Regions from separate parts of the Homo sapiens genome. Here region 1 is linked to region 2. The links come from fine-mapping of genetic effects on gene expression. A gene starts in region 2. The other region holds a variant in brackets. All regions are shown on one strand. Distances are from middle to middle. Region 1 overlaps MYO1E (myosin IE). Region 2 holds the start of MYO1E (myosin IE).

Region 1 (2,907 bases), 240 kb after region 2:
GAGCTATGTGCATTTGCAACAACCTTGTCAGAAAAGTTACTTTTATTCCTCAAGTTTAAAGACTGCACCCTGGGCCACATGTCTTCTAAGGATGGAGCTGGATTTGAACTTGAACAGGCCAGTGCCGGCCGCCATGCTCCAAACCACCGTTCGGTGCTGCTGCCCCCTGTTGGGGCCCAGTCTCATCTGCTCCACTCTCTCCACAGGGTCAGGAGACAAACAACCAGTCGGCCTCCCCCAGCAGGGGGCAGACCCAAGCCCCAGCCCAAGCCCAAGCCTCAGGTGCCACAGTGCAAGGCTTTGTATGCCTATGACGCTCAGGACACAGACGAACTCAGCTTTAATGCCAATGACATTATTGATATTATCAAAGAAGGTAAGTGTGTGGCTGGTTGGCTGGGACAGCCTCCCAAAGAGCATGCAGTCACATTGCTGTAAGATCTAGTGTGAAAATGAAAAGAATTTATGGGCTCCTCAAACTGCAATTTGTAGAGGCAGGTCAGGCCTCAGGCTCAGTCTGATCAAGACACCAGCTTTTTTAATGCTTCTTTCAGCTCTGCCCCCTTATTTATATTCCCTCCCTTGTCAAGCTGTTTTTCTTCATGGTAGCAAAACGGCAGCAGCAATTCCAGGCCAACATATCAAACCATGTCTGAAATGTGCATCATCTCTGAAACTTCTGTTCTTAGTCATTGGACAAAAGTCCTGACTTTTATTCTGATCAGACCAAATTAGCCATGTGTCCATCCCTGAACCAACTTCAGTAGCAAGACAAAGGCTGTACCCTGAGAGGATGAGACCTGGTAGGGGCTGTCCCCAGAAACGGGGAGGTCTGTCCCACCCACACTTCCTGGCTTCTTCATAATGAAAGTGGATGGAGTGGAAGCCAGGAAGACAACCTTGAATATCCATTATTAAAGCAGTCCATGGGCTTGGCTGAGTGCTTTATTAATTTGGTAGATATCTTACTTTTTTCAACAAACTTTTTGATTTAAAGAACAAAGGGAAAACAACATGGATGGAGCCAAATCACTTGAGCCCATGGGAGCGGAGTGTGTGTGGCTGGGGCAGAACAGACTTTCTCATCTTCACTTCCACCACCTCTCTCTCCCTGCAGATCCTTCTGGCTGGTGGACGGGTCGACTACGAGGCAAGCAGGGCCTGTTCCCCAACAACTATGTGACCAAGATCTGAGGTGCCCGTGACTCTGACACATGGGGCAGAGGAGCTCCAGGCACAGACCAGGGGAGGGGATATTTAGGGGCTCCCCTTACAATCCACAATGAGCAATTGCTTCTCCAAGGCCTGGAGCTATTCTGGTACCTTCCCCATGGAGGACACTGAAAAGGCTGGGTTGGGGACAGGGAGTATCACTCCATAAGTGATCCTAAAAGGTAGCCTCTTCATAGGAACCCAGGAGGACAAAACCACCATGCATTAAGATTTATTTATTGTATTTAAACCTGGTGAGAGGACAAGTGAGGTCTGCTCAGACCTTGTAGGCTTCTATCAAAACAGCACCCTGCTTGCTCACCAGGCCTAGAGAATGGCTGTAGGTGGCCGCTGACAAGTGCCTTTAGTTGAAGAGCACATTTCTTTCATCTCTCTTGTC[C/T]ATACCTGATAGACACATTCCTCTCTGCCACCTTCCTTCAGGGAGGACCCGCCCTCTGCAGACTGGGCTTAGCGTGAGCAGGCACTTCCCATGTACGTGCCAAGGGTAAGCTGGCCTGCTGAGCCCAGGGCGACAGAGGGGCACTGGTTTACACTTTGCCGGGACCATCAGGGCCGCCAAGCAGGTCAGGGGCTGGGGGCTGGGGGCTGGGCTGCTGGCTTTGCTTTCTCTGGGTCTTCAATTAGAATGTGGCTGGCCCATATTGGTTTGTGTTTAAATGCTGTACTTACTACAAGAAGGATCTTTTTTCAAGCTGTACATTTATAAAAACAGATCATATACTGTATATATAAAAATCTTGAGATGGTAGAAACATGTATGAATGTACTAAGTAGTATTCCACTGTACTCATTCATAAGGTAGGTTTTCTTACAAAACTCACACCAGGTACTTAAAGATGTGCTCTGCTTTTTTCCAACTACGGAGTGTCACTGCTTTCTAGGTCAGTCCCTGCAGACTCTTCTCAACTCTTTCCCTATAGGAAACTTACTCCGCGTCCTGCCCCCACCTCCTAAATAAATAAAGGAATCGGCGAACACCTTCTTCTTTTATGACATTTGTTATGGGTTGAATTGTGTGCCTCCAAAGAAGATGTTGGAGTCCCAGCCACCAGTACCTCACAATATGACCTTATTTGGAAATAGAGTCTTTATGGAGCAAACAAACAAAACTAATTAAAATGAAGTCATTAGAGTGGGTCTTAATCCAATATAATGGTGTCCTGATGAAAAGGGGAAATTTGGACACAGAGACCAACATGCCAGAGGAAAGACCATGTGAAAAGGCAGGGAGAAGACAGCCATTCACAAGCCCTGGACAGAGGCCTGGAACAGATTCTCCCTCACACCCTCACAAGGAACCAGCCCTGCCCACCTTGGTCTTGGACTTCCAACCTCCAGAACTGTGAGGCAATACATTTCGCTGTTTAAGCCACTCGGTTTGTGGTAGTTTGTTACGGCAGCCCTAACAAACTAAAACAATGTTTTCTTGCCATAATAGTGAAAAGCTGGAATCAGTGTAATGCCCATCAATAATGGAATGGTTGTAAGTAGAGACTGCCATTTCTCTACCTTTCCTCCTCTGGGTGCCATAGCCATTCTTAAGCTACTGGTAACTTAGAGTTTGAGCAGCATACACCTTTGAGGCTTTCAGGATCCTCAAGTCCATGGGAAAAAATTATCAGGGCTTACGTATAAGGGAAAAAAATTGATCTAGATTTGAAACGAAGATACATT
Region 2 (2,907 bases):
CACCCATTTAAAAAGCATAACACAGTGGTTTTTAGTATATTCATAAACTTGTACAATCATCACCACTAATTCCAGAATATTTTCATCACTTCAATAGGAAAATGCATACCTGTTAGCAATTACTTCCATCTCCCCTCTCCCCCAGCCCCTAGCAAACCACTAACCTACTTTTTATCTCTATAGATTTCCCTATCCTCAACTTTCATTTAAATGGAATTATATAATATGTGGTCTTTTGCTCCTGGCTTAACACGATATTTTCGAGATTCATCCATGTTGTAACATTTTGTTTACCCTTTTAGACAAGATAAAGTTTAATACCCTTTCTAACTCTATGCTCAGATAGTCAAGTGAAGAGCTACAACCAAATTTCTTTTTCCTTTCTTCCTTTCTTCTCTCTCTCTCTCTTTCTTTCTTTCCTTCTTTTTTTTTTTGACAGAATCTTGCTCTGTCGCCCAGGCTGGAGTAGAGTGGAACGATCCCGGCTCCCTGCGACCTCCGCCTCCCCTGTTTAAACGATTCTCGTGCCTCAGCCTCCCGAGTAGCTGAGATTACAGGCATGTATAACCATGCCGGGCTAATTTTTGTATTTTTAGTAGAGAAGGGGTTTCACCGTGTTGGTGGCCAGGCTGGTCTCAAACTCCTGACCTCACGTGATCCACCAACCTCAGCCTCCCAAAGTGCTGGGATTGTAGGCGTGAGCCACAGCGCCCTGCCTCAACCAAATTTCAGAAAGTATCATAATATCATTATGCTTCATAGTTTCTCTATGCCCTGAAGTTTACCAATTTTATCTTCTACAGATTCCAGGAAGGCAGCCTGTTAAGACTCACCAAATTTACTTCCTCAGCCTCCAGAACAATAAAATCAAACTCCCTACCTTGATTTTAAGATTCTGCTTCCCCCCACCCCGCCCCACCCCAATCTTCTCCTTGGATATTCGACAGTCTGGAATAATGCATTTTTACAGTTCTGATTGTTTTCAGCAGATGTGTTGGCTGAGGTTGGATGGGGTTTCTTCCCACCTATCTCTCCTCTCTCCTTCCCTCTGCCCACTGCACGTGCAACAACTTTTCTGCCATCAAAACGTGCAAAAAAGAAACAAGAAAGAAAGGAAAGAGAAAGAAAAGAAAAACAGAAAAAAGAAAAGAAAAAGCAGCCGGAAGTCTTCCTTTGTTTTCCAAGGAAATTCAGGTAAAAGGAGGGGTGGGGAAATGATATTTTTGACTTTGCTCACAATCCAGACGTAGGAAAGAAAAAGGATTTCCTTTGGGCTGCTGCCACGACTCTGATGTTTTATGCTGATAAAATATTTCCTTCTTAAAAAAAAGTTCTGGGAAAATCATGCCCCTTCAACTTGGAAGCGAAACCCACCCTAACTTTCGTCTTAAAACGCAGCGAAGTGAAAGGTTTGCTCCTCTTTCACGAGGGTTTTGTTCCTTACAGTTCGGGTCTTGCTACCAGGAGCGAGCTGGGTCCGCAGCGTTCTTCGGTGGCTGGCGCGGGAGGAGGACTACAGGATCCAGAGATCTTTGGAAACTCCAGCAGCTCCAAGCTTGTTGGCTACTACGGTTTCCCTGAGGAGTGACGCTACGAAAACAAACCCTGATTGGTCAGGCCTGAGCTGAGTTCTCCATTTATGGACAGATTGCCCGGCCCGAGCCGAGACTCAGCCAGAGGAGTACGGATTAAGTGGCCGAAGAAAGAGGAGTGAGGCAGGGGAGCGAGGCGGACGCTCCGAGCGCATCGGACTCACCTGGGCCGGCGGCGACCGGCGAGTACGAGTGGACTCTTGCCCTCCGCAGCATGCGCCCCGCCTGCTAAGTCGCCGCCGTCTCGCCCTCACCTAGCACCGCCAATCCCGCCTGGATGGAGTCCCCTCTGGGTTCCCATTGGCTCCTGTGAGTGCTTGGGTGTCGGGAGCCTGTTTTTGGCGAGGGGAACCAACTTTTGAAGTTCGCCCAGAAGACTGCGTTCCAGCCCCAGTTCCCCGGCAGCGGGACCCGGCGAAGACGCGACCGCGGCGCGAGTCACCATGGTGAGTTGGCCGCGCCGCGTCCTAGGACGCCGGACCCGGGGACGGGGCAGGAAACCCCGGCGTGGTGCACCCACCTTGGGCGCGCTGCCGGGGCCAGGGGTGGAGAAGGTGGACGCGGGAGCCGGCACGTCGCGAGCTCTGATTTCCTGCCGCTTTCCGTAAACCCGGGCCGGGGGAGAGCGAGCGAGGGGCCAAGGAAAACTTTATTCCAAGTCGGTTTCTGCGTCGCGAAACTTTCTGTGGCCGGGTTGCTATGGCTGCCAGCTGTCGGAAGCCAGGGTGTGGGCGCATCGGCTGCGAGGGGCACGGCGCGGGAGGGGGTCCCCTCCTCCTGCTGGGACGTGGGGGGCGCAGCCGGCAGGGGAGGTGCTCGGAGACTCGCGCCGCAGCCGCTGGCGGCGTCCCCTGCCCTCCCCGCGGCCGTGCCCGCCCCGCCCCGGGCACCCTCGCGCCGACTCCCTCTCCTCCCCGCCGCCGCTCCGCTGCCCGGCAGCGCCCGCAGCTGTCCCGCCTGGCAGCGGCACGCGGGCGGGGGCGGTCCCTGGCCCGCCTTGGCGAGGGGCGGCGCGGGCCGCACAAAGGCAGGCGGGGGCGCCAGGTAGGGCGAGCACCTGGCGGCCGGCGGGCTGTCAAGAGCCAGGGAGACTCGGGCGCGGGCGGCAACCACGCCGCCCCGGACCTGTGCCGGGCGCCGGCCCCGAGGGTCTCCGCGCCCCGGACGCCAAGTAAACACCTCCTGAAGAGGACCCCACCCCTTCCCAAGCGCGAGGGGATCGGGGCTTTTCGGGGATCCAGGGGACGCTTCGCACGGGAAGACGCCCTCGCGAGTTTCGAGTTTGTTGCTGTTTTCCCTTTGGCACTTTGGGAAT

What was found.
Region 1: its variant is fine-mapped to the expression of MYO1E in lung (TOPMed, PIP above 0.99). The same link has a PIP of 0.9 or more in whole blood.

Annotation. Positions count from the first base shown.
Region 1 is chr15:59,135,667-59,138,573 of GRCh38, reverse strand. MYO1E (myosin IE) reads left to right here. Exons shown (of 28, transcript NM_004998.4): 27 at 207-376; 28 at 1,118-2,907. The coding sequence ends at 1,194. Among named protein-coding and RNA genes, the nearest start is that of CCNB2, 32 kb to the right of the region's middle. RefSeq lists an enhancer at 70-364. The variant C/T (reference allele first, on the strand shown) is at 1,613.
Region 2 is chr15:59,371,629-59,374,535 of GRCh38, reverse strand. It overlaps MYO1E (myosin IE), which reads left to right and starts at 1,665. Exons shown (of 28, transcript NM_004998.4): 1 at 1,665-2,038. The coding sequence starts at 2,036. RefSeq lists enhancers at 1,377-1,881, 1,882-2,385 and a silencer at 2,401-2,720.